Linked DNA regions of Homo sapiens. The protein of the gene in region 1 interacts with the protein of each later gene in a biochemical or structural test. Each region holds a gene or a part of one and is shown on either strand. Other genes may lie near its edges. The genes, in order: MAP2K4, MAP3K1, MAP3K4 and MAP3K5.

Region 1 (7,027 bases):
AGATGATGTTATTCCAGAAGAAATTTTAGGCAAAATCACTTTAGCAGTAAGTACCTGGTCTTTAAATTATTCATTGTGTATATAGTTATATAGAGATGCTGCTGGAGTTTTGAATGCACATATTTGAGTGTCACTCACAGTACCTTCCTGAAAATAATTCATAGTTAATAACCAGAGACAAAGTCACTTCTGTGGGGTAGTTAACACAATAGGTCATAATGGTCTCGATAAATACTGCCAATGTTCTTTCCCTTTGAATCTCAATGAGTCATAACAGACTGTTCTGTAAATAAAGCTAGGAAAAGCAATTTTCTGTTCATTTTTTCCTGTTGCTTTAACTATTTTTAAATAGGTTATATTACCACAGTTATCCTGAAATTAATCAGAATCACAGCAGTCTCCTTGAAGCCCCATAATTGAAGCCCTTGGACAAAGTTTGTTTACTGTGATTTAAGATTTTGGTTACTCCATAATTGAAGCCCTTGGACAAAGTATGTTTACTGTGATTTAAGATTTTGGTTATTCAGTCTAAACTATTTAAAATTTTGACTAGCAGTTTCAGGGGCCAGTGTTACTACTAAATTTGGTTAACTCACTTTTACCAGAGTACCAAAAAAGAAAATAGCTACTTTTTTACATATGTGTTTATAGTTTTGAAAGTGAATTGATCACTTTGTTTCTTGCTCTGAATCTTAATTTTTTTTCCTAAAGGAAAAAGATAATTTACTTTTTATAGAGCAAAATTCATAAGATTCTTAGAAACTCCTGAGAATCTGAGCTAATGGCATGTTCTAGGTTAGTTGATATATAAACTAAATCATACAGGAAATTGTAAAATAGATACTTTGGTTGCATGTAATTTCCTAGCTCTTCCTTACCTGCATACTCCCCCTCCAATGTAGTTCACCAAGATATATACTCTTTCAAATAATTTCATAAAAAGATTTTATGAAATCATTTTATTTTTAAATTTTATAAAAATAATTGTATAAAAAGAAGCTAACTTAGACTAGAAACTTATTATTTAGCGGGGTATATGAAATTTTACAATGATTAGTTTAGCCATCTCTCTCTAATATATTAAACCCGTGTTATCTTGAAACTTACTATTTGTAATAATTATAATAATAGAAAAATGATAATAGCTAATGGTTATTAAATGCTTATTTGCATCAAACTATTTGTGACATTAAATCTTCATAGTAACTCTCTGTGGTAAATAGTGTTACCTCATTTTTATGAATGATAAATCTGAAGCATAGACAGATTAAATAATTAATATGCTTTGAAGTGTGTAAGTGGTAAATAATCTAAATCCAGGCAGCCTGATCCCAGAACCCTGCTCTTAACCGCTGTATAACAGGGTGACCATGAAATTAGAAAACAGAAAATTATTTTATCATATATTGCAATATAAAGAATATATACTGTAAAAAATGATTTATTCCATATTTGCCTAAGTCAAGACTTGGTGATCACTTTATATATATTAAGCACACATGTAAAATACTTTGTATTTAGTCTCTTCTTGCTAATTAATAAACCAGCAAACAAGCATAGCTATTCACAACAAATTTATGTGTTCTACATTTCTTGTACCTAGCAGCTTGACGTCAGCAAAGACGTCACCTTACAGCAAATAGTTGGCCTGTTGTTTAGTTCTCTTTTAGTTTGAGGTTGTGTCTCTTTTCCTTCCCTTCCTGAAGAAATGTGTAATTTTCTGATCATGATCAGTGACCAGGCAACAGGATAAATTCCCACAGTGGTGAACAGAGTTTACACTAGCTCTTCAAACATCACCTTGAAGGCTTAGCATCCAATGAGGGTGGATGATGATGAGGAACTGAGAGTTTAGAAAACTTTTTTATTTACTACTGGACTTAGAAATTGAAATCGATTTTGCTGCAAGTTATTACTCTTAGTTGAAATGGAACCAACTCAGTGATCATTGTTGTCCTGTTTTTATTTTTGAACATTTTAGAGGCCAGGCACAATGGTTCATGCCTGTAATCCCAGCAGTTTGAGAGGCCGAGGCAGAAGGATCGCTTGAGCCCAGGAATTTGAGATCAGCTTGGGCAACATAGTGAGAACCCTGTCCATACTAAAGATGTAAAAAGTTAGCCAGGCATGCATCTGTAGTCCCAGCTACTTGGCAGGCTGTGGTGGGAGCGAGACCCAGTCTCAAAATAAAAAGGGAAAAAAAAAAAGGAAATTTTAGGTTGGAGATAGGAAAAAAGATAAAATTTTAAATGAATTATTAAACAAATTATAAGTCTAAGTTACTGGGTTTTTTGTTTGTTTGAGCTATCAGGGAACAGCATATAAAGGCAACTAAGCTTTTAGATCTAAAATTATTCAGTATCTTTGGTTAACAAGAAATGACAAAATATTGAAATATTAAGCTTAAAATGTATGCAGAGGACTACACGGGATATTACTTGTGATAAACTGTTGTGCTGTTTGAATAAAAAGAAACAAGTTGTTTATCCCATCTCTCCTTTTTCTCCCTAGACTGTGAAAGCACTAAACCACTTAAAAGAAAACTTGAAAATTATTCACAGAGGTGGGTATGGATTGGTATTTTTTGTAATAGAAATTAACTTTTTTCTCCTAATTGGTGAAACGGTTATTGAAAATTACAGTGTCACTGTATAAACTTTCCTAAAATATTTGTATTTTTAGCAAAAAATGCTTTATGTACTTTAAAACTCTATTACTGCTATTTTTTTCTTTGGGATTCAATAAATTTCAGTCTATCTTAGTATGTTGGACTTAGAAACTGAAATAGATTTTGCTGCACATTGTTATTAGTTGAAAAATAATTATTCATTTGCCTGATAGATAATGTTTTTCTGCATACAAATAAGGCATCGAGGTGGTCCTGTGGACATTCAAAGAAGAATCTGAGGGATAGTACCCTCAAGCATTTTAAAGGCATGCTATCCCTGTCTGTTGTTTCTTCTTCACATTAGAGGATGTTTCTAAATTGAGAGAAATCTTTTAATTAGTATTATAAGTTGAAATTTCTCTAAAGCATGTTGTATTTGTGTAAACAGTGATCTTGCCTTTATTAGATACATATTCAAATGAAGCATTTGATGTAGTTGAAGGCCAGACCTAGAAAAGTAGTAACCCTGTGGGAATCCTGAATTTAATCTGGCAAATAGATGAAGTGCTTGCTTTACTTATTACTGTGCTAGACTCAGGGTAATGAGGTGCTGGCTTTGAGGAAACACACCGAATCACTACCCCTCAGCAAATTTGTAACGGAAAAACCTGACAGTAAGTGGCAGTGTGTGATTTAGCCTGACAGTAAATAGGAAGGAAAGTAAAGGGTCAAAATGAAGAGAAGTGAAAAATTTCTAATTCTGGGAGACAATTTCTAGTGGTTAAAGAAATTAGTAATTGGGCCATTTATTTAAGTTCTTTTGTTTGTGGTTGACACTAGGCCACTGAAATTAGTGAACCTTGAACATCAGTAAATTTTATTTAATTTTGTTTGGCTTAATGCTTGTTAGAAATAATATCTTTTTTTCTTTTGGCCTAAAATTATGTAGAGTTAGGTCCCTAAACAAAATTCTTTGTTTCTCTTGTATTTCTTCTTGTTCTTGTCTTGATTTTTTTTTTTTTCCCTTCTTTGTTAGCTGTGTTCTATAATTATGAGAGTAGCACCTTTGAGGCATTTGATAGTTACCTTAGGGATATTTACTGATCACAGTAAAGCACCAAGGTACTGCCTGGGGAGTAGTTGAATAAAATAAAAAAACTTCAGAAGTAACTTTTATTGTTCTCTTACTAAATGAAGTGATGAGTTTATAGCCATCTTTTATCAGTTAGGATCAGTTAGCTTTTTTGTTGGAGTCAGTGCTTTTGATTACAAGTAATAGAAAATCCTGATAACTCTCTTTAAACTTCAGGGAAATTCATTATCTGTCATAATTAGTCCAAAGATGGGGTGGCTCAAAGCACAATATGCTCCTCTTCCTTCTGTCCTCCTTCATGTGTTAACTCTGTCCTCAGGGTAGTAACAACTAGAGCAGTTCCCACTATCATGTCTATATGTGGCTGCCTCGTGAAGAAGAGGTGCTCTCGTGCTGTGCAGCTCTGTAGGGAGTATGGAAACTTTTCCCACGTCTCTAATACCTTTTCTTGGCTCATTCACCAGAAGTGCCTCATGCCCTTAAACCAGCTACTATCAAGAAGCATGAGACTACCCTTATAAAACTTATACCAGCCAACAGCCAGGTTTTCGAGGTGTGGATGTTGATGAGAAGAGATACTTCAATAAAACACAGGTTCTGTTAGAAAGTATGGATGGGGCTGGGTGTGGTGGCTGACACCTGTAATCCCAGCACTTTGGAGACCAAGGCAGCTGGATCACTTGAGGTCAGAAGTTCGAGACCAGCCTAGCCAACATGGTGAAACCCCATCTCTACTAAAAATACAAAAATTAGCCAGGTGTGGTGGCGCATGCCTGTAATCCCAGCTACTTGGGAGGCTGAAGCAGAAGAATCGATTGAACTTGGGAGGCGGAGGTTGCAGTGAGTGGGGATTGCACCACTGCATTCCAGCCTGGGTAAAAAAGAGCGAGACTCTTGTCTCAAAAAAAAAAAAAAAAAAAAGCATGGATGGTTAGGAATGGATGTTTGATAGGCCCACAGCTGTTTCGGTCATGGTAAGAGATCTTTACTGAATTTTTTTGTGGATCACCTTCTGAGTTACATTTAGATGTTTTCTGCATCCTATATTTTAAAACCTTATTTTTTATTCATTGAGCCAGGATAGTGACAAGGACATGGATAAAAGGACTGAGCTATGGATAGAGAATTAGTTGGCACATACTGGTAGTGACTTGATTGTCAATGAGAAAGGGATTTGACATTCCTTATATTTTGACTGTTATGTAATGAATCTGGACTAAGTAAATGAATTTGTAAGCCTCTTGAAAACAATTTAATGCCTAAATTTCTTGTGAAAATTTTTTTTGATATTCAGTTTTTAAGCACTGGCATTCAGAAAATTGTTTTCCTTTCTCATTTTCAATAGAAGAAAACCATTGTTTTTTCTGTGTTTTATAAATATGAAGATGTTAAGAGAAAAATCAATCCCCATCTATATCTTACAGATTAATGTTTGTGAAATGACTTTTGCTGTTACATTTACACAATTATAGTTATTAAAGCTACATGTTTAAAACATGAATAATTATTGTATGTGATAAATGAAGATGTTTTACTTCTTATATATCTGAATTTAAGGACTTGACCACTTATGTTGTCTAAGGTTTTTCAATATTTTTGCTTAAAGTGAAGCCTTATGTAACTTAGGAAGAAGCTAATTGTATACTGAATGATATCTATGTCTTGCAGATATCAAACCTTCCAATATTCTTCTGGACAGAAGTGGAAATATTAAGCTCTGTGACTTCGGCATCAGTGGACAGCTTGTGGACTCTATTGCCAAGACAAGAGATGCTGGCTGTAGGCCATACATGGCAGTAAGTGTTAAGTCCAGGCCTTCTTGCTTGATAGTCATTGCACAGAGAGCCTGTGCTCTTTTGTGCTGGCCATTAGTCATACGGTTTTACCATGAAACTGCTAGAATATTTCCCTTACCCTAAGGCCCAAGCTCAGGTCCTAGCCTCTCCATGAAACTTTGCTAAATTATCCCAGTCAGCTCCTGTTTTCATTGTCTTGCTTTATTTCTCTTACTTGGTATTTAGCAGTTGTGGTCTTCTCTGATTATTGTTTTTTCATTATATTGAACTCAACTCATTAAACAGATGGTAACTTCTCAGAAAGTTCCCACCGTCCCTTAGTGAGACAAATGGGAAGCCTTGAGTTCATTAGCAGAATTCACTATGTATTACAGAGTCTGAAGCTGCATATTTTGAATATTGTTAGTCCTTTTTTTTAGGGGTAGATGAAGCACACCAACAAATGCAAAGGTAGAGGCCTTCAGTATTTTGCAACCTGGAGCCTCTTTTCCTGCAAAGAGACAGATGTACACTATCCATCCATAGATATCAAACTCATCTTACCCCAGTATATTTGCATACAGTGTTCCTACAGCCTGGATTTTGATCTGTATTTGAATGAAAATGTAGTGTCTGTATTTCAGACATTTCCCTAGGTGTTAATGTCTTTCTTCAATGTTGCCATGGTTCTTTGGGGACCAGCACACTACTAAATGTGACACATAAGGTTTTGTGGTTGTTTCTTGAGGCCTCCCTGCCAGCAGCATTTCTTTCCATCTTTGTAGACTGTTTTAAACTAAAGATAAGCTTAGAATTGAATAAAATTGTTCTTTCTTGGTTTCCTCCTTGATATATATGTTTTCAAACCTAGTGCTATAAATAATAAAAAAGTAAGAGTCACAGGCTAGATATTATAGGTGTTCTAGATTATTTATGAATGGATAGGCTTAGTGCTACTACAAATTCAACTTACTGCATTTTTCAATCCTCTTTTGGTTTTGTTATATCTTCCCATATCACTTTTTCTTCAGATGAACATGTAAAAGCGGTGTGTGTGTGTGTGTGTGTGTGTGTGTGTAGACACCTAACCTGTGTGGTAAGACCTTTTAAACTTTTGGTTTTGTGGATGTTGACTGGCTGGGCAGATTTCTTGACTCAGTTTGGAAGATCATTTGTTTATCGTGATAACTAGGGATAAATGGCACAATAGTTTCAAAGGCAAGAAATAAAAAAAATTAGACATGGAGTATTTGGGAAATGTGATTTACATATTTATTAAGGATACCCCGAGAATGAACTGAAATTGTTATTTACAGTTTTAGGGCTTGTCTCGATACTAACAGTGACTAAATGTTTTTGTTGTGTGACACTGACTAAGAATTATATTTGATTGAAGCAGGCTTTGAAAATGCAATTGCAGCCCAGATAAAGTAGAATATTTTGAATTCAGCTTTCTAAGAAAGACTCAGACTTTCTTTAAAACAGACTTTCGTCATTCTTGTGCAGAGATATGCTTTGCAGGCCCAGGAGATGTAAGACTTCTGTTTTCTT
Region 2 (7,027 bases), on another chromosome or scaffold:
TGGTGCAAAAGCAATACAAATTTGGTAAAAACCATACTTTGAATTTTGATTTTTGTCTGAGCTAGCAATATGTGCTATGATACACTGGTGATGCTAGGCAGTGGCAGCGAGTCACAGCTCCCAGTCAGCCACACAATCACGAGAGTGAACAACCAATACTCTATAGTGGACTGTGTTGTCAGATGATTTTGCGGAACAGTAGGCTAATGTAGGTATTATAAGCACATTCAAGGTAGGCCAGACTAAGCTATAATGTTTGGCAGGTTAGGTGTATTAACTGCATTTTCAACTTAAAAAAATATCATCAACTTAAAAGGGGTTTATCACGACATAACCTCAGCGTAAGTTGAAGAGCATCTGTGTATGTGTGTATTTCCAGGAGTTGATATTGTCAATGGTGTTGTCAATGTTAGTGACATACATAGTCACTTCTTGTTATTTGAGGTAGTTATGCTCTGTTAAGTTGCTACAAATATTGAATTAGCAAATACTAAAACACTGCTTCTAGAAGAAATATGTAGTGTGTTTATATGTATATGTATGTGTGTATATATATCCATCCATCACTTTAAAAACGTGAAATTCATGCATTTTACATAATTCAAAAATCTTAAAATCTAATTTACCATTTTCTTTTGTTCGTTTGTTTTTTGTTTTTGTTTTTGAGACAGAGTCTCGCTGCAGTGCCCAGGCTGGAGTGCAGTGGCACGATCTCAGCTCACTATAGCCTCCGCTTCCCAGGTTCAGGCAGTTCTCCTGCCTCAGCCTCCCAGGTAGCTGAGACTACAGGCACGCGCCACCATGCCCAGCTAATTTTTGTATTTTTAGTAGAGATGGAGTTTCACCATATTGGCCAGGCTGGTCTCGAACTCCTGACCTCAAGCCCACCTCAGCCTCCCAAAGTACTGGGATTACAGGCGTGAGCCACCACTCCTGGCCTAATTTACTATTTTGTATATTTTAAAAATTCACACCCAAGTCAGTTCAGTCCTGTCTGCCTTTCCTACTTTTTTATAACTCACAAATCCATTCTCTCCTTTTCCACCATAGAATAAGTAATGGTTGATATTCTTAGCTTTTCAGTAGATGTGATGGTTGAAATCATGGGCTTTGGAGTCACACTGACCTAGTTTTAAACCCTGGCTCTACCCCTTAATGGCCATGTAATCATAGGAAAATTATTTTTTGTGTCTACCCTCCATTTTCTCACATGTAAAATTGGTGCAAGAACCCCATGAAGCATGTACTTCGTGGGATTACTATGAAGATAAACAAAATTATACCTAGGCCTTAGTCAAGCACTCAGCCCACACAGTCAGCTCCACCTGCCATAACCTCCTCCAGTGCTCCCCACACTTATTATATAACCTCCTCAGTCACCTCTCTGACAATACCTGTTTTGTATTATCACCTCATTTCCTCTATTCTTTCAGACGTCCCATGTCCGTTCTCTACGTGGTTCAAATTCTTATTCTCTTTAAGGCCCCCATTTTGTGCTTCTCCTGCTTGGGCACCCCCTTTTTACTCATTCCAGATTCTCATAGCATTTTAGTACATACTTGTTTCTGACACTTTGTTTCTTGTTTGCTAGTTATGTTCCTATCTTGCTGCCTCTTTCAAACTAATTCTCCTTGAGGTCCATTCATGTCTGATTCATTTTCTTCTTCCCAGAGTCTTATACAGAAGTTGCTCAATAAATACTCATGGCTAGGATCAATTTGAAAGTTTGATGTTATTTTAAGAGTTTTGATGAGACCCTGGAAACAATTGTAAATAATTTTCAAATTGGCACAGTTCATATTTTAACAGATTTCATTGCATTCTCCTTCCTAGGTAGAGTTTAAAGAGAATTGTACTGTAACATTTTCAGTTTCCTTAATTTGGAGTAAATACTTTGAGGTTTTTGGAAGCACCCCAAAGCTTTCTCAAACACTTCCATACCCTGTTTATGGTAGTATAAATTGCCATAGCACGTTTTTTTAGAGAGTGATTTGGCAATATCTGCCAGAATTTTTAATGCACTTATTCTTTGACTCAGCTATGCCCATTGTTAGGAATTTACTCAAGATTACCTCTAGAAGTACCAAGTGCCAAGTTCAGGATTATTCACTCTACTCAAGAAAGTAATTAAATTATCCACACTATACAGAAATTAAACGAGTATGAAGCTGTTGGTGTTGATTTACAAAGTGCTACAAGATACATTAATAAGTGAAAAGAGCAAGGTATATAAAGTGATCCTGGCCAAGCACAGTGGCTCATGCCTGTAATCCCAGCACTTTGGGAGGCTGAGGCAAGAACAAAACTTGAACCCAGGAGTTGGAGAGCAGCCTGGGCATAGCGAGACCCCATCTCTACCAAAAAAAAAAAAAAATTAGCTGGGCATAGTGAGACGCACCTGTGCTCCAGGGTACTCAGGAGGTTGAGGTGGGAGGATCGCTTGAGCCCAGGAGGTCAAAGCTGCAGTGAGCCATGTTCATATCACTGCACTTCAGCCTGGGTGACAGTGAGAGCGAGACCCTGTCTCTAAATTAAGTTTTCTCTTTTGTAGACATTTTAGAAAATCTTAAGTCTGTGAATATATTGGCCTTTTTTCCTCCACAAAACACACACAGACACACACACACCCCCCCCCCCCACACACACACACACAAATCATCAGTAAGTTACATTTGGGGAAAAGAAGGAAGAGGGACTTTTTTTGTTTTGTATTTTTCCTTTTTGTGGTGTGTAAGATGTGTATATATCAGCTGAGTATATCATGATACAGGATCACAGACCTTAGAGGATTTTTCTTTATATTACTTTGCATTTTTTAACCCAAAGCATTTATGAAATTACTGGGGTAGGGAAAAGAGAGTTTTCTTGTGATTAGGAGTGGATAGGTGAGTTTAAAGTATTCAGACTTGATATTAGCCCTTTGTCAGATGAGTAGATTGCAAAAATTTTCTCCCATTCTGTAGGTTGCCTGTTCACTCTGATGGTAGTTTCTTTTGCTCTGCAGAAGCGCTTTAGTTTAATTAGATCCCATTTGTCAATTTTGGCTTTTGTTGCCATTGCTTTTGGTGTTTTAGACATGAAGTCCTTGCCCATGCCTATGTCCTGAATGGTATTGCCTAGGTTTTCTTCTAGGGTTTTTATGGTTTTAGGTCTAACATTTAAGTCTTTAATCCATCTTGAATTTTTTTATAAGGTGTAAGGAAGGGATCCAGTTTCAGCTTTCTACATATGGCTAGCCAGTTTTCCCAGAACCATTTCTTAAATAGGGAATCATTTCCCCATTTCTTGTTTTTGTCAGGTTTGTCAAAGATCAGATGGTTGTAGATGTGTGGGATTATTTCTGAGGGCCCTATTCTGTTCCATTGGTCTATATCTCTGTTTTGGCACCAGTACCATGCTGTTTTGGTTACTGTAGCCTTGTAGTATAGTTTGAAGTCAGGTAGCATGATGCCTCCAGCTTTGTTCTTTTGGCTTAGGATTGACTTGGCAATGTGGGCTCTTTTTTGGTTCCATATGAACTTAAGTAGTTTTTTCCAATTCTGTGAAGAAAGTCATTGGTAGCTTGATGGGGACGGCATTGAATCTATGAATTACCTTGGGCAGTATGGCCATTTTCACGATATCGATTCTTCCTATCCATGAGCATGGAATGTTCTTCCATTTGTTTGTGTCCTCTTTTATTTCATTGAGCACTGGTTTGTAGTTCTTGAAGAGGTCCTTCACATCCCTTGTAAGTTGGATTCCTAGGTATTTTATTCTCTTTGAAGCAATTGTGAATGGGAGTTCACTCATGATTTGGCTGTTTGTCTGTTATTGGTGTATAAGAATGCTTGTGATTTTTGCACATTGATTTTGTATCCTGAGACTTTGCTGAAGTTGCTTATCAGCTTAATGAAACTGAAGAATGCTAAAGACAAGAAGGAACCAAAGAGAAAAGACAAATTACAAGAAAAAAAATTGATAACAATTATATGGATAACAGAATACAGCAGCAACAAGAGAATTCAAAAGACAAATTGTACCTTCTAGTGATTGAAATAAAATAACAGTTAACCTAGGATTTCATAGCTAGCTAAATGATCATCAAAAAATAAGAATGAAATAGAGATATTTTCAGACACATGAGAATTGTGGAAGTTTACCTTCAGCAGACACTCACTGAAAAAAATTATTTTTAGGAATGCATTTCAAGAAGAAGAAAATTGATACCACAAATAGGGAGATATGCAAGAAAGACACTATCTCTGCCTGGAGTCAGCTCTGATTCATAATGGGTGCTCAAAAATTGTTAGAAAACTAATACTTTTTTTTATATATGACTTGAAATTAAAATATGGTTATTGCAGCACAAATTTTAGAATGTAAAGAGTGTATCACAATTTAAAAATAATTATCAGATTTTGAATTTTTTTAGAAAAACTACAAATAAGACCAAATAAAATTTCTTTTTTTTTAAAAAAAAAGTATTCAGACTTACAATTTGTTTATAAAAAAGTTATTCTTCATAGTGTATTTGATACTAAGAATCAGAATTTGTCCAACACGGAAGGAAAAAAACAATGCAGTTGTGTTTTCTATGTATTAAATTGACTCTTCAGTTTTAGTCTTTCTTAATCTAAATAGCTCTGTATGCTGAAGAAATAGAAAACGTGCAGTAAGAACAAACCATCTCGGAGATTGAATATGAGGACAGCAGAATTCATTTGAGTGAATACTTTATCTACCTGAACATTTTGATGTACTTAGCCTTGTTGATGTAAATAATAAGGAATAGGATATATTTGATCAAATCCTAAAATCCTAAAATTTGAAAGATTGTTAGAGAAAACCTCCCATCCAGTGGATGAATTTTTTCATAGACTTTTTGATAGCAGAAAATCCTCCCACTTCTGCTTCAGTTCCTCTCTGTTCAGGATGTAAATGTAAGGGTTATGAGGTCTATGCACATGTGTTTCTGTATCAGAAGTTACAGTTGTGCAAAGCTTCAACACTGGCTTTTTCTCCACAGATTGCTAGTGCAACTACTGCTCCATCGATCCCTTCACATTTGTCTCCTGGTTTACGAGATGTGGCTCTTCGTTGTTTAGAACTTCAACCTCAGGACAGACCTCCATCAAGAGAGCTACTGAAGCATCCAGTCTTTCGTACTACATGGTAGCCAATTATGCAGATCAACTACAGTAGAAACAGGATGCTCAACAAGAGAAAAAAAACTTGTGGGGAACCACATTGATATTCTACTGGCCATGATGCCACTGAACAGCTATGAACGAGGCCAGTGGGGAACCCTTACCTAAGTATGTGATTGACAAATCATGATCTGTACCTAAGCTCAGTATGCAAAAGCCCAAACTAGTGCAGAAACTGTAAACTGTGCCTTTCAAAGAACTGGCCCTAGGTGAACAGGAAAACAATGAAGTTTGCATGACTAAATTGCAGAAGCATAATTTTATTTTTTTGGAGCACTTTTTCAGCAATATTAGCGGCTGAGGGGCTCAGGATCTATTTTAATATTTCAATTATTCTTCCATTTCATATAGTGATCACAAGCAGGGGGTTCTGCAATTCCGTTCAAATTTTTTGTCACTGGCTATAAAATCAGTATCTGCCTCTTTTAGGTCAGAGTATGCTATGAGTAGCAATACATACATATATTTTTAAAAGTTGATACTTCTTTATGACCCACAGTTGACCTTTATTTTCTTAAATACCAGGGCAGTTGTGGCTCATTGTGCATTTTACTGTTGGCCCATTCATTTCGTTTTTGGAAATTATGGTTTTGTATTTTCATGTTTATTTACATTCATTTTTGTTTATTCAGGGAAAGCTGATCTTTTTTTCAAACCAGAAAAAAAAAATGAACTAGATATGAAGTAGAGTTCATTAAATATCTTGCTATTGTCAGAGTTTTTAAAATATAGACTTAATTTTGTTTTTTTAAATTGGAATACAATAAAGTACTACCTACATTTGAGTCAGTCACCACTCTTATTGTGCAGGTTAAGTACAAGTTAACTAAAAATAAACTGTCCTCTCTGGTGCAACTCACAACCAAGATCAAGATTACCTTAAAATTTATTTGAATTTTTTAGATGTTTTGGTTGTCAAACTGTAGGAAACTTCACAACATTTAAGTCTTACTCTGTATGTAACAATCCATCATTCACCTTCACTACTGGTAGTAACATAGAGCTGCCATTTTCCTTTTACCATGCATCATCTCTTTACAGTAGGCCTGGCAGATCATTTTTTAAAAAGATTATTCAACTACCAATCAGTAATGTTTTTAAACAGTACATTTGCTTTGAACTTGGAAAATGTGTTCAGAAAGAAAAATGGAATTGAATTTCATTTATACACTAATTCCTTGGATTTTGCACAGTTACCTAACGGTTTTAGTCTGGAGTTAAATTCAGATGCATGGAATCCTGAAGGAAAATGGTAGCTTTTTAATCTTTTTGTGTGTGTGTGAGTCTTTTAAATCAAGTACTGATTAACTATTAAGTACAACTTTGAGATTTTAGTTTTAACTCTTCAGAAGCCAGTGTGAAATAGAATTGGTTATTCTCAAAGACTCAGGATAAACTAAATAAGCTATATATAGAGTACATTTAAAATGTACAACACAAATTGGAAATAAAATAAGTTACAAGATAAGTTTACAGGGATATATTGCTTACAATTTTTAAAAGGCAGTTTGTTTTTTATGTGAATATGTTTCTTAGTGAAATTTTACATTCCTTTGTTTTGGAAGATTGGCGATATTTGAAGAGTTAAAAATAGTACAGAAATGTGAAGTTTGGTATCTCTAAATGTGTTGTACTTGACTTTCTTTTTTATTTTGTTTTTTTTTTTTTTTGACTACTTAGAATTTTCACAATTCTAATAAGATTGTTTCCAAGTCTCTCATGTGCAAGCTTTAAAGGATGCACTCTTGCCATTTTATGTACTGGAAGATCATTGGTCAGATGAATACTGTGTCTGACAAAAATGTAAACTGTATAAACTGAGGAACCTCAGCTAATCA
Region 3 (7,275 bases), on another chromosome or scaffold:
GTTTCAATCATTTGGGTAATTCCCACTATTCTAATTATTTTTTGAAAGCATGCAATCTTTAATTCTTTATCTACTGATTTGGAGCCCCTGGGGGTTCAATTTAGATTCTTCATGCAGAGGAGAATGTCTGCAATAAGGGGTGATTTATGTCATGGTGGAGAAATAACAAAAACAGGCAAATCACCTCTCAGCAAATAAACAGTGGAGGTTTTCTCCAACTTCCTACTACTCAGCCAAGAAGGATGAGATTTAAGGTTATAAGGACTATTTAAAAAGTGTGTAACTACTATTCACAATAGCAAAGACACAGAATCAATCTAATGCCAATCAGTGGTAGACTGGATAAGGAAAATGAGGTACATATACACTATGTAATACTATGCAGACGTAAAAGAACAAGATCATGTCCTTTGCAGCAACATGGATGGAGCTGGAGACCATTATCCTTAGCAAACTAATGCAGGAACAGAAAATCAAACATCCATGTTCTCATTTATAAGTGGGAGCAAAATGATAAGAACACATGGACACACACACAGGGCCTATTGGAAGGTGGAGGGTGGGAGGAGGGAGAGGATCAGGAAAAATAGCTAATGGGTACTGGCTTAATCCCTTGGTGTTGAAATAATCTGTACAGCAAACCCCCATGACACAAGTTTACCTATATAACAAACCTGCAGATGTACACCTAATCTTAAAAGTAAATTTTAAAAAAGTTTACTATCTTTTGTACATATCCAGTATTTCTTTGGTGTTTTACCAGTAGATAGAAATAGATGCCACTGTATCATTATGAAACAAAAAATCAATGTGTGTCGTGCTTAGTTTAGGTCCTCTCCAATGGATGTGAGGTTTTTATTGCTCTCTTTCACTGGGTCTGCCTTTCTCTGCGTGTGCTGGAGTGAAAATTAATCAGCCCCTCTGGTCGTGAGCAGATTGCATGTTTGTGCTGCCTGTCTTTCTGCCTCTGCGGAGCTGTAGAGGAGCCACCAGAGAGCAGAGGGCCAGAACTGCTGAAGTTTTTGTCTGAATGTTCACACCGGAATCTGGTCGGGGGGAACTGAGAAACCAGAACAGGAATGAAGAAATGTGGGCTCTCCTGGTTTTAACTCCCTGCACTTCCAGAAGGAAATGAAGGGGTGTGCTCCCTCAGGAATACCACAAGGAAGGGAGGAACTTATTTTAAGTAAAATGCAGCACCACGCTAATAATAATTTTAAAAACTATAGCCTTAGAGGTTTTTCTTTTTAATAGCAGACATAACCCTATTTATCACATCACTTATTTTATTGAGACCATCCTGGCTAACATGGTGAAACCCTGTGTCTACTAAAAAATACAAAAAGCCAGGTGTGGTGGCAGGTGCCTGTAATCTCAGCTACTCAGGAGGCTGAGGCAGGAGAATCGCTTGAACCTGGGAGGCAGAGGTTGCAGTGAGCTGAGATCACGCCACTGCACTCCAGCCTGGGCAACAGAGCAAGACTCCATCTCAAAATAAAAAAATTTTTTTTAAATAATCCTGTGGCAAAATCCATAAAATTGACTAATATACTAGCCTTGAAATATGCTAAGGTGTTACAATTATGCCCTTTACATTTATGTACATATATATATATACACACTATATAGAGAGGAAATTTGAGACTTCATAATAGTGGTAGCATATGTCCAAGGTTTTTGAGTGTTTTTGGCAAAGCAGAAAGAACATGCATATGAATATGTAACTGGTTTTGTGTATGTCAAAAATGGGCTTTAAACTCATGGTAAGCAATGTTCTGAATGTTACGTAGCTCAACCTAGACTAGGTCTTCAGTAGAACCTTAGCTTTTTAAACTCATTTCAAAGTAAAGAAATTCCATAAGGGCTATGTGGATTCGGTCTTGAGGACAAAGAGTGAAAGGTAATTCTCTGAAGATTTTGTTGTCATTGTTTTTAACATGATTAGGCTGGGTGCAGTGGCTTACACCTATAATCCCAGGGTTCTGGGAGACTTGAGGCCAGGAGTTCAAGACTAGCTTGGGCAACATAGTGAGGCCTCAGCTCTACCAAAAAAAAAAAAAAAATGTTTAAAATTAGCTGGACATGGTGGTATGCATCTGTAGTCCCAGCTACAGCAGAGGCTGAGGTGGGAGGATCACTTGAGCCCAGGAAGACCCTGTCTCCAAAATAAAAAAAGAACATTATTAAAGGTAATGAGACAATGAGACCAACCATGTGCTAAACAAGAATAAAAATTTAGAGACAAAAATCTAATAACTTAAAAAAAATAACTATTTCATTAATGCAACAATACTTACTGAGTTCTACTAACACCATGTTGGGCACCAGAGACATTTGATCCCTAGGCAAAGGTCAGAAGAAGGAAGAACAGCTTCTTTCCTGAAGGAGCTTACACTATGGTGGAGAAGGCAGAAAAGAAATCTGGGGGCTGTGAGGCGCTCACTGGGAGCCCTGAAGACAAAGTGGGGGCACGGGGTGAGATGAGAGGGTTGTCAGCCAGAGAAACAGCTTTCCTGGACCCAGCATGGGGGTGGGGCGAAAAGTCACAACACTTATATTGAATATTTAGTACCAGTTAACTTAGGTTTCTATACATGATGCATTACTTGATTAGGTAAGTGTAAATTTACTTGGTTCCTGCTAAAATACATAGTATCCTCAAGTGGAAATTAAAACACAAGAACAAGCCACAGGTCTCCCGCATGCTGATTATATTTGCTAAGTGTTTTGTGACTTGGACACACGTGTCTGCATTATCAGCTAGCTTAAATTCGGTAGTCATACCAAAGAATACGTAGTACAATGCTGTTTAAAGAAGAGATTTATTTTATTATTTAACTTTTAAAGTCTCTAATATGCCTTCTAAGAAGGGTTCTGGCTCAGAAAATTGCAGAAGAAAATCGAGTAGAGAACTAGAATTACAGAAACCTAAGAAATACTTTTACTGAGCTTTCTTCACACAAGAAAATGCACGGAAATGAATTATACATGGATACCAATTTGTGATTTTTAAAAATTTGTAATTTTTTAAATTAAGATAAAAATTAGTTTATTTTTTTGAATACTTTTTTGTTTTGTTTTACCTCACCCTTTACTAAGCTGTTAGCTTGGTCTGTTGCGCTTACTGCTATATCCTCAGCATCTAGTACAGTTCCTGACACATATATGCACTTAATAAGTATTTGTCAAATGAATATTATTGAGTAAATAAGATGAAGGTCAATTCAGAAATTCAGCACTATCAGGCTATATACATAATACAGACTATTATAAAAAACTAGAATGGAGCAGTTCCTTTTAACGACGGAGAAATGTCAGTAACATACTTTGAGCACAATATAGCTAATTTCACAACTGGTCTTTAAATATAACATACCTATAATCAATTTAATGTTTTTCTTTGTTACCAGAGTTGTTCAAAACGTGCGTTTCACCTATCAAAGCTCAACTAAATGAGGTTTAAGAAATCTGCACATTTGAATGTACTTAATTTTAAAAGATTCTGGTTTTGGATTAACTCTGGATTTCACCCTATGGGAAATTTTGTAAATATTTCCAACTTAAAAAAAAACTGTGAAGCCCCAGCGCTAAGAGTAAACGATGCATTGGAATTTCAACAGGATTTCTGTAACTCTGAAATAATCTTTAGCATTTCTTCTTCCCCCCATCCCCTCAGTGTAGGAGCATTCCAGTCCAAGTTTCTGGGAGATCGCTATCGAATCTTATGACACTGGGGTGAGAAGTTTTGCCGGGTTGAAATGAGGGGGTCACTTTAATAATCTGGAATTCCGGAGACTTTATGTCAAGTCTTAAAAATTCGAGCCTGTGGAAGGCTGCGCTGTCAAGAGACCGGAGTTGCGAGCGTCTGGGTGACGTCCGTCCTCCTGGAAGGTGGGATCCGGGTGGCAGGTCCCTGGGCGGCGACTCCGGCCGGGCTCATAGCGTCGCGCCCGCCCCGCTCATCGGCCCTACCCAGCGTCCCTCCCAGACCGACGACCGCCTGGGAAGCCTCGAGCTCCCAGCCCGCTGCACAGCCCGGCTCCGCTCCACAGTCCCCCACTGCCACCGGCCGGGGCGACACCGGGCGAGCTGGCGAGACCCGGCTCCAGGACCGAATCGCGCCGACACTTGACGGCGCTCCCCGCCCCTCCCTGCCGCCGTCTCCGCCCCCGTCCGGTCGCATTCCGGCGCCCGCCGCCGCCGCCGCCACCGCCGCCGATCTGGGAGGCTTGTCCCTCGCCGCCCACCGTAGCCCCGGCGCTCGGCCGGTCGCCGTTTCCAAGATGGCCGCGGCGCGCACGGCTCCTGCGGCGGGGTAGAGGCGGAGGCGGAGTCGAGTCACTCCCGCACTTCGGGGCTCCGGTGCCCCGCGCCAGGCTGCAGCTTACTGCCCGCCGCGGCCATGCGGGGCTCCGTGCACGGATGAGAGAAGCCGCTGCCGCGCTGGTCCCTCCTCCCGCCTTTGCCGTCACGCCTGCCGCCGCCATGGAGGAGCCGCCGCCACCGCCGCCGCCGCCACCACCGCCACCGGAACCCGAGACCGAGTCAGAACCCGAGTGCTGCTTGGCGGCGAGGTGAGTGTGGCGGCCGCAGTCGGTCGCTCGCAGAAAGCGGGGCGGGTCCTGGCCCGAACTCGGTCGGGCCCGAGGGCCTCTGCTTCCCGCCAGGTGGGGAGGGAAGCATCCAGTCTCTGCAGGCTGGGGCGGGAGGGGCGCGGTGCATCCCTGGGTCCCAGGGGACCGCGTCTGAGTCTGTCCGGCGACTCCTCCCGGGGTTGCAGCTCCGCAGGGTTCCGCTCGAGCGTGTTGCCGGCTCCCCTTCCCTTGTAGACTCCCCCAGCTCACCCTCAACGTTGCGGGGGCTGGGAGCAGAGTGCGGCTGCCTCCCCTGCCGCTAGCTTCGGAAGAGTGGCCTCACTGAAGTGCCTCTCATCATTACTGAACGAAAGTGGTCCCTCCCCTCTGCCCTCATTCGAGTAAAAGAGACATTCGGAAATCGAGTGCGTACTGGCTATTTCCCCGCGTTCTCCTCCTCCTCTCCTTTTGCCCGCTCCAGAGAATGCCTGTCATCTCTTCCGTGAGAAATTGCACTTAGACTATGCAGACAGATACGTTGCTTTCCTGTTCTGAGGGCCCCTTACTGTCCTTTAGTGCTAGTATTGTGCAGATTGTTGCTCACACGTGCACAAAAGTAAGGATTCATTTGTCTAAAACTTTGCTACTGCAGGAAGCTCTAAGGTGGAACTTCGGTAACCAAAGCATTTGTTGCTTTTTCTTCCATACTCTATTAACTTATTTTTATGTCTTTATTTTTTTTTTAATTGAGAGAACAAACTCACCATAACTGAGAATTTCCCTCTTTTTACGTGCCTATGTTTGTATGTTCAAATGTCCTCTTACTCCCTGTCCTTTGCATCCCAGAGTAAACTTGCAAACTGCTGCCCCCTGTCCCCTGTAATGAAAATACCTCGGCAGCTCCTCTTGGCATCTTATGGTCTTGCTCTATGGTTCTAGGAATAAGGCAGTAAAGTGTCCTCTTTTTCCTGCTTAAAGAAAATTCACACCTGTAACTGTAGTTAGAACTGAACACAGGAGCCATATTCTTGCTTGTCATCATTCAGTTGGCCCAAACAAATTTGTTTTATTTTTATAAGCTGTGAAGAAATTAGTTGCCTCTTTTAATTCTGAGATAGTTCTGGGTACTTCTAAGGAACAACTTCTCTGAATAATGGTACAGGGTGTAATGAGAATTCCTTTGGTTCCTTTTGAATACATCTAGTATTTTTAGAAATTTTGTCAGAAAGTTTATTATAAATTTGTTAACGGATCAGTTTTCGAGCAATTTTGATACCTTTTTCTTTAAAATTAATAGTGAACACTTAACGGTTAAAATAGGCCATTGTCTTTATTTCTATTAACCCATTTAATCTTTTCAACAACTCTATGAGGTAGGTCCTGTTATACTCTCTTTTTGACAGATGAGGAAACTGAGGCACACAGTTTAAGTATCTTGTCCAGGGTTTCACAGCTGGTAATGAAGAAAGGTCTGGCTGCACAGCCCATGTCTTTAACCACCATGAAGAATTCATTATCCAAATGGGCGGATCAGAAATTAGAATTCTGTATAACCCTACTCCGGAAAGAAATGGACATGAGCATTCTTAGGTAAAAGCGAGAAGGGCAGAGAAATGAAAATGTGCTGCAAAAATGACTGCTGCTTCAGTGGTAAAAAAAAAAAAAAACTTGACTTTTCAGTCAGGCTTCTGTCTGTGTTATAATAAAAATAGGTCAGGATAATGGGTTTCATCCAACTGTAAGTGAACAGCAGTGTACGGAACAAGAAGATCTCAATATTTTTCTTAGCAACATTGCAGTTAATTTTACAATAGAAAAATCTGTAAAACAGATTACTTGACAAAGCTGTTGTTTTCTCTTTTTTATGTCCTCGTTGTCACCACCTGCTCTTCAATACATAGAACTGACCTCTGACAGAATTACTGTAGATCTTTGGTAAAAGATGTAGGGGGTCTATCCAGTTGTTCATTTGAACTTTTTTTTTTAACCATTTTAGAGGAGCTCAGTGTACGTGTTCAAAATGTGTGAAATGCCACCTCTTTTTTTTTTTTACAATTTTCTTTTTTATTTTATTTTCAATAGTTTTTGGGGTACAGGTGTTTTTTGGTTACATGGATAAGTTCTGTAGTGGTGATTTCTAAGATTTTGGTGCACCTGTCACCCAAGCAATGTACACTGTACCAAATATGTAGTCTATTCCTCACCCCGCTCTGAGCCTTCCCCCGAGTCTTCAAAGTCCATTATATCATTCTTACGCCTTTGCATCCTCCTAGCTTAGCTCTCACTTATAAGTGAATACGATGTTTGGTTTTCCATTCCTGAGTGACTTCACTTAGAGTAATGGCCTCCAGCTCCATCCAAGTTGCTGCAGTTGCCATTATTTCGTTGTTTCATGGCTGAGTAGTAGTCCATGGTGTATATATGCCACATTTTCTTTATCCACTCATTGGTTGATGGGCATTTAGGTTGGTTCCATATTTTTGCAGTTGTGAATTGCGAATTGCTGCTATAAACGTGTGTACATGTGTCTTTTTCATATGATTAGTTGTTTTCCTTTGGGTAGATACTCAGTAGTGGGATTGCTGGATCAAATGGTAGTTCTACTTTTAGTTTTTAGGTTTTTTTAGTTTTTTTTGAGACAGAGTCTTTCTCTGTTGCCCAGGCTGGAGTGCAGTGGCGTGATCTCAGCTCGCTGCAACCT
Region 4 (7,027 bases), on another chromosome or scaffold:
CTAGGTAAAGTTTAATTAATAATGCCATTTGGTGATGACAATAAAGTGTTATTCTACATCTTTATTTGTGCATGATATCAGGTGCTCCTGAGATATCAGTATACAGCTAAGAACTAGGGGGAAAATGTTTATTATCCTCCAAGTAGATAAAATAGATGCCACATAATACATTTTATTCACAGAACAGCAACTTGAAATCAGCAAAAAATTAAAAAGTCTACTAACCGCTTTATAGTGATGGTAGAACTAAAAATATATACAAAGCAAGTACAGAAACAATACCAGGATAAATGTCCAGGGACTTCTAGTGTAAGGGCAAGAACAATTCAACTTTAATTAACTCTTAACTCTAATTGTTCTTTCAGTGAAGAACAATTATTTATGTTAATAAATGATAGGCTGAGTCAGGAAGTTAAGGTTATATTATGTTCAAATCATAGGTACATCACGGCCAGTGCCGTGGCTCATGCCTGTAATCCCAGCATTTTGGGAGGCCGAGGTGGGCAGATCACTTGAGATCAGGAGTTCGAGACCAGCCTGGCCAACATGCCGAAACCCTGTCTCTACCAAAAATACAAAAATTAGCCAGGTGTGGTGGTGCACACCTGTAATCCCAGCTACTCACAAGGCTGAGGCAAGAGAATTGCTTGAACCCAGGAGATGGAGGTTGCAGTGAGCCAAGATCATGCCAGTATACTCTAGTCTGGGCAACAGAGTGAGACTCTGTCTCAAAAACAAAAACAACAAACAAACAAAAAATCATAGGTACATCTAATTTATTTAGAACAATTTGTACTGGAAACAGTAAAATGGAAAACAAAGTTTTGGCATTTTAAGTGGTTTTTTGCAGGAAAATTTATTAATATGGAGTACCTTTACCTTTAATTCTTTCTGAAGGCAGAGTAATAAAAGAAATACATTGGCTTCTAAATTTCTTAATAATGCCAGATATGTAAGATATTTATTTAGGCATCTGAATGAACTGAAAACTACAAATGCTTTATAGCTAATGCTGCAATATCATTCATGTCTTTATTAAAATTATTGCTTTTCATTGAAATTGTTTCTAATGTCAAACTCTTTGAAATGTGTGTGTTTTTACCAGCCAGTACTTCCGGGAATCTATACTCAATGACATCAGGAAAGCTCGTAATTTATACACTGGTAAAGAATTGGCAGCTGAGTTGGCAAGAATTCGGCAGCGAGTAGATAATATCGAAGTCTTGACAGCAGATATTGTCATAAATCTGTTACTTTCCTACAGAGATATCCAGGTGAGAAGATGTTTAAAGTGAAATCTTTGTTGTGTAGCATGTTGGAGGGATAAGGGAGTATTAACCTCAAATTTCAGTTTGCTGGTAAGCAGTTCATGTTACTACACGTAATTTTTTATTGACTCTCTTAAGCTTTCCATCCTATAATTTTATGATGAATGAAAAAGACTCATGTGAGTTAACCATCAGTGATTGTGAAAGACTTGTATGGTAAAGGCCTGACTTTTTCCTCCAAAAGAACAAAAAGAAAAATCTGCTGGCACAGCGAACCTGTGGACACAGTCTATTCTACTGTTAGCCTCAGGCACACCTGTCAGTGAAAGCTTTGTTTTGGCAAATAGCAGACATTTTTAGAGCTTTCTGGACATACCTTTTATCCCTTGAAATTGTATTGCTTGAAATTGATAGTGCTGAATCTAACTCGCCTGAAGGAAAAAATATGTAATTGATTACCTACAGAAATAACTTTAAAAATATGTAATGTAAAACACACTAACAGGTTATATCATTTTTATTGACATGTCTTAAAATTTTAAAAATAGGGTAAGTGGAATAAAATCCTCTCCAAGTTAGGGATTTGCTCTTAGGTTTTAATAGTAAAATTTAAATGACATCTGGTTTCTCCTTTCCATTCCTAGCCTTTCAGGTCTGTGTAAAGGCTTCATGTGCTCAAGACAGACTCACATCCATGGAGGGCTGTGGCACATAGGATCCTGTGGCTAGAGTGCTTACTCATGTGACATGAAACTGTGTTGCTACTTGTAACAGAAGTTCAACCCATTGCCTCATGTCCTTGACATTTTTATTTCCCTGAAATTGTTAGAACACTGCATACCGGGAATCTGGCTCTATGGGGAAATAAATCACCCATATTTAGACAGTAGAGCACTATCATGCTTGGTGTTTTTGTTTCTTTTGCTTTTTTAGTTTTTGTTCAACATGGTAACTGTATGTTTCTAATGTTTTTATATATACGATCTAAACCTTTTAGAAGAAAAACAACAAAAACTGTTTATTCTAGGTTCTTCAAAGTGTTCTGTGGATTCTAGTGTCTTTTTAATGTGTTTCTTGAATTCAGATATCTGGTTGTCAAAAGACACGTTATTGTGAGAATTTTCTCCTAATGGTTTAATTCTGTGCTATTCTCATCTAATTTGAAAGGACTATGATTCTATTGTGAAGCTGGTAGAGACTTTAGAAAAACTGCCAACCTTTGATTTGGCCTCCCATCACCATGTGAAGTTTCATTATGCATTTGCACTGAATAGGTAAGAAGAAAAAGTTCCCTTCCAGAATGCGTTAACATATTATTGTGTAACCTGCAATTCTTTACAGAGAATGTGTTCACTGCAGCATTGCAAGAAGTCCCTATTAAAATGTAATATTAGCATATCTGCTTCAGCCCCATGAAATATAGGAAGCATGCATTCTCATTTTTTTCTGATTTATTTTTCAGTAAAAAAAAAGTCGCACACTGTTGGTATATTTAAATTCTTACAGGTTTTCTGCTCTGTCAAAGTTTGTATTTGCTATTCATATTTTTTAGAATTGTAAAAGTTACATGAATATGATGTTATCTTTAAGCAAATACACTCAACACCAGATGGTCATTCACACAAAAGTTTTCACTAGAGTAAGGATGGTTATGTCTAGGTGAACATAGTGTTAGATAGTTATTACCAAGGATAAAAAGGAATTTCTTGGACAGAAGATTTGAAGTAGTAATTGAGAATAGAAATGATACCTTTTTTATAATAGCTTTATTGAAACATATTTCACAGGCTGGGCGTGGTGGCTCACTCCTGCAATCCTAGCACTTTGAGAGGCCAAGGTGGTCGGATTGCCTGAGCTCAGGAGTTCGAGAGCAGCCTGGGCAACACGGTGAAACCCCGTCTCTACTAAAATACAAAAAAATTAGCCAGGTGTGGCAGTGTGCACCTGTAGTTCCGGCTACTCGGGAGGCTGAGGCAGGAGAATCGCTTGAACCTGGGAGGCAGAAGTTGCAGTGAGCCAAGATCATGCCACTGCCCTCCAGCCTGGGCAACAGAGCAAGACTCTGTCTCCAAACAAACAAACTAAATATATTTCATCAAAACAATAAATTTTAAAACATTTTCATCACTCCACAAGGAAACCCTGTACCCATTAGCAGCCCCCCTTCCATTTCCCTCCCAAATCCCCCAACTCTAGGCAACCACGAATCTACTTTCAGTCTTTACAGATTTGCCTATTCTGGACATTTCATATAAATGGAATCATACAGTATGTGGTCCCTTGTGACTGACCTCTTTCACTTAGCATAATATTTTCAAGGTCTAAGGAATGATAACTCTTATAGAATTTTTATCTGGTTTTGTGAACTGTCTACACATACTATTTTAAAGCATGCTACATAAAGCAACTTCCTTAGATAATCAGTTAGTCACACGTAGAAATCAAGCAGTTCTTGGGTTTGATTTGATTTTTGGTATCATCTGTGAATGAGTTTGCTAAGTTTTGGAGCAAAAGCCATTGAAACCTAAGGTCAGGGTTTTGTCCCTACTTGGCTTTATTTACTCTACCCTATTCAAAGACACAGACTACAACTCTAATCTCGTTTCACCAACTTGAACCTGCATATAGGCTGCAGGGAAATTGGAAGGATTGTGGATGAGTAAGTACAAATCCATCACCATTATTAACACAGAAACTCAAAAGAAATCCTTGTTAGACCTAGTAGACATACAATGGGATAAAACAAAAAATTAGGCTTAGGACAGAGGTTTACAGAGGACTCTCAAAATCTAATTGTTTCTGTCCTGGCAAATTTCTCTAATATGAATCAACATGTTAAATAGGGTTTTTAAAAAAGAATTGATCTATATTGCTTCTGTAATGTATATTGAAACAACAATGTTTTCTGCCTTAGGAGAAATCTCCCTGGTGACAGAGCAAAAGCTCTTGATATTATGATTCCCATGGTGCAAAGCGAAGGACAAGTTGCTTCAGATATGTATTGCCTAGTTGGTCGAATCTACAAAGATATGTTTTTGGACTCTAATTTCACGGACACTGAAAGCAGAGACCATGGAGCTTCTTGGTAAGTAAATAGTATATAAATGAGCTACTTACTTAGTAAATCCATGGCATAAAAAAGTATTTGCAAATGAGAGTGTTAAAGTATTATTATAATCCATAAGATTGTGTATTATGAACTAAACCTTAGATTTTATTTTATTTTATTTTATTTTTGAGATGGAGTCTTGTTCTGTTGCCCAGGCTGGAGTGCAGTCATGTGATCTTAGCTCACTGCAACCTCTGCCTCCCAGGTTCAAGCGATTCTCCTGCCTCAGCCTCTCCAGTAACTGGGATTACAGGTGCCCGCCACCACGCCCACTAATTTTTACATTTTTAGGAGAGACGGGTTTTGCCCTGTTGGCCAGGCTGGTCTTGAATTCCTGACCTCAGGTGATCCAACTGCCTCTGCCTCCTCAAGTGCTGGGATTACAGGCGTGAGCCACCGGGCCAATCTTAGAGTTTATAACTTTAGTAAATAATTTGATGAAATTCATTTAACATAGTATAGTAAATTGGGATAAATAGATGAAAAGATAATTTAAGAAATATAATTTTAAAAAGATATTTTAAATAAGTAATATAAATAATAAAATATAATTTTGTAGAAAAATTTATATAAAGACAGTTTAAAAGACCTGAATGAAAGGAAAAAATATACCGAGTTTGTAGATGAGAAGGCTTGATATTTTAAAGATTTTAATTCCCCCCAGCAGGGGTTTTCATGTGATTTGACAAACCAATTCCAAAATTTATTTGAAAGAATAAAGGACTGAGAATAGGCAAAGCAATTCTGGAAAAGCACAAGGTGGAAGGACTTGCTCCACCAGTTAACAAGACTCATTATAAAGCTGTAATGATTAAGATATTGCAGTATGGCTATAGGCATAGACAAACAAAGCACTGGAATACAAGAGACAGCCTGGAACAGACTAAGATATACATGAGTCTAGATTTATGGCAGAATCAGCTTCATGAGCTGTAAAGGAAAGGATGGAATCTGTAGTAATGATACTGGGAAAATTTCTTTATCTGCTTGGAAAAATAAAATAAAGTTCTATCCCCATTTTAAGCCATGCACAAAAAAATGAAATCTAAGTGAGTTAAATACCAAAATATGAAAAAATACTTTAGAAAAATATTTTTAGAATAAAGTGTACAAATTATGTATGACTATTGGATAAGCAAAGATTTCTTTCTTTTTTTTTTGAGACAAGGTCTTGCTCCGTCACTCAGGCTGTAGTGTAGTGGTGCAATCTCGGCCCACTGCCACCTCCACCTCCTGAGCTCAAGTGATCTTCCCACCTCAGCCTCCTGAGTAGCTGGGACCACAGGTGTGTGCCACCACGCCTGGCTAATTGTTTGTATTTTTGGTAGAGAGAGGGTTTCACCATGTTGCCCTGACTGGGGCAAAGATTTCTTAAACAAGGCTTAAAAACGCCATATACCATAAAAGATAAGACTGGGAAAATGGTCTACATGAAAATTGGCTTCTGCTCATCAAAGTAGTAGCTTTTGGAAACAGCAGAGTAGATTCTATTGTGCTTATCTTCCTGTTGATAACAATTATAAATGTTGGAAAAAAGTTGGAAAGCACTGAAGAGTGATTAAAAGTAGCTAGAAACTGGAAAGGTTTTCATCCTTGGATGAAGGGCACCGCATAGGATAAACTCCACATTTAAATGGCTTTTCCCTCAAGACATTCCCTGGTCTGCAGGGAGCAGGACAGATAGAACTCTAGCAGGAAATCACAGTCTTATTGGCCTGAGAGTGAGTTTGAGGCTGCCGGAGGACCTGGACATTGAGTGGGATAAGCCTTTGTGTGAACAAGGTGAACCACCAATAATTTATTTACCTTTTATTAAAAAACTACATACTCTTAAGAGGAGGAGAACAAATCCAAACTCTCTACAGCTTATCATCCAAAATGTCTAATACACCATAAAAATTACTAAGCAACCTGGGTGTGGTGGCATGTTCCCATTGTTCCAGCTACTCAGGAGGCTGAGGTGCGAAGATGGCTTGAGCCTAGGAGTTCAAGACCTGCCTGGACAATATAAAAATACCTTGTCTTATTAAAAAAAAGAAAAAAAGAAAAAAAAGAAAGAAAAACTCTCAACTACTAAAGTGGTGAAGAAATAGGAAAGTGTGATTCATAATTAAGAAAAAAATTATTCATAGAAATAAACCCATAGATAAAACAGAGTTTAGAATTACCAGACAAGGACATAAAAATAACAATGATAATTATATCAAAGAATCTACTTGAAAAGATGAACATAATGGGTGAAAATATGAGGAATTATAGGAGATATTTGGAAACTGGAAATAACCAAATGGGAGTTCTAGAACTGAAAAGTACAATATCTGAAGTTGAAATGTCATCAAATCAGATTAACAGCAGATAGGACACAATACGATAAAAGAGCAATAAACTTCAAAACAGATTATTAGAAATCATTGAAATTGAAGCAGAGGAAAGAAAGAGATGAAGTCATTAATAATTCCAATGACCTGTGGCATTTAGTGGTCTAAATACTTTTTTTTTTTTTTTTGAGACGAATCTTGCTCTGTTGCCCAGGCTGGAGTTCAGTGGTGCAATCTCACCTCACTGCAACCTCTGCCTCCGGGGTTCAAGCGATTCTCGTGCCTCAACCTCCCAAGTAGCTGGGATTACAGGCATGCCCCACCATGCCCAG

Evidence for each region.
Region 2: of the proteins of MAP2K4 (region 1) and MAP3K1, one has a biochemical effect on the other in vitro, tested with the Homo sapiens proteins (7 studies listed by BioGRID and IntAct, with this or other methods).
Region 3: the proteins of MAP2K4 (region 1) and MAP3K4 form a complex in vitro, tested with the Homo sapiens proteins (2 studies listed by BioGRID, with this or other methods).
Region 4: of the proteins of MAP2K4 (region 1) and MAP3K5, one has a biochemical effect on the other in vitro, tested with the Homo sapiens proteins (3 studies listed by BioGRID).

What each region holds. Positions count from the first base shown.
Region 1 is NC_000017.11:12,107,864-12,114,890, forward strand, and holds part of MAP2K4 (dual specificity mitogen-activated protein kinase kinase 4), read left to right. Parts: coding exon 1-46; intron 47-2,511; coding exon 2,512-2,563; intron 2,564-5,369; coding exon 5,370-5,497; intron 5,498-7,027. UniProt on the Homo sapiens protein: Dual specificity protein kinase which acts as an essential component of the MAP kinase signal transduction pathway. Essential component of the stress-activated protein kinase/c-Jun N-terminal kinase (SAP/JNK) signaling pathway.
Region 2 is NC_000005.10:56,888,523-56,895,549, forward strand, and holds part of MAP3K1 (mitogen-activated protein kinase kinase kinase 1), read left to right. Parts: intron 1-5,008; coding exon 5,009-5,158; 3' UTR 5,159-7,027. UniProt on the Homo sapiens protein: Component of a protein kinase signal transduction cascade. Activates the ERK and JNK kinase pathways by phosphorylation of MAP2K1 and MAP2K4. May phosphorylate the MAPK8/JNK1 kinase.
Region 3 is NC_000006.12:160,987,510-160,994,784, forward strand, and holds the start of MAP3K4 (mitogen-activated protein kinase kinase kinase 4), read left to right. Parts: upstream 1-4,259; 5' UTR 4,260-4,422; coding exon 4,423-4,574; exon of another isoform or gene 4,575-4,833; intron 4,834-7,275. UniProt on the Homo sapiens protein: Component of a protein kinase signal transduction cascade. Activates the CSBP2, P38 and JNK MAPK pathways, but not the ERK pathway. Specifically phosphorylates and activates MAP2K4 and MAP2K6.
Region 4 is NC_000006.12:136,691,466-136,698,492, reverse strand, and holds part of MAP3K5 (mitogen-activated protein kinase kinase kinase 5), read left to right. Parts: coding exon 1-4; intron 5-1,105; coding exon 1,106-1,274; intron 1,275-2,435; coding exon 2,436-2,542; intron 2,543-4,182; coding exon 4,183-4,353; intron 4,354-7,027. UniProt on the Homo sapiens protein: Serine/threonine kinase which acts as an essential component of the MAP kinase signal transduction pathway. Plays an important role in the cascades of cellular responses evoked by changes in the environment.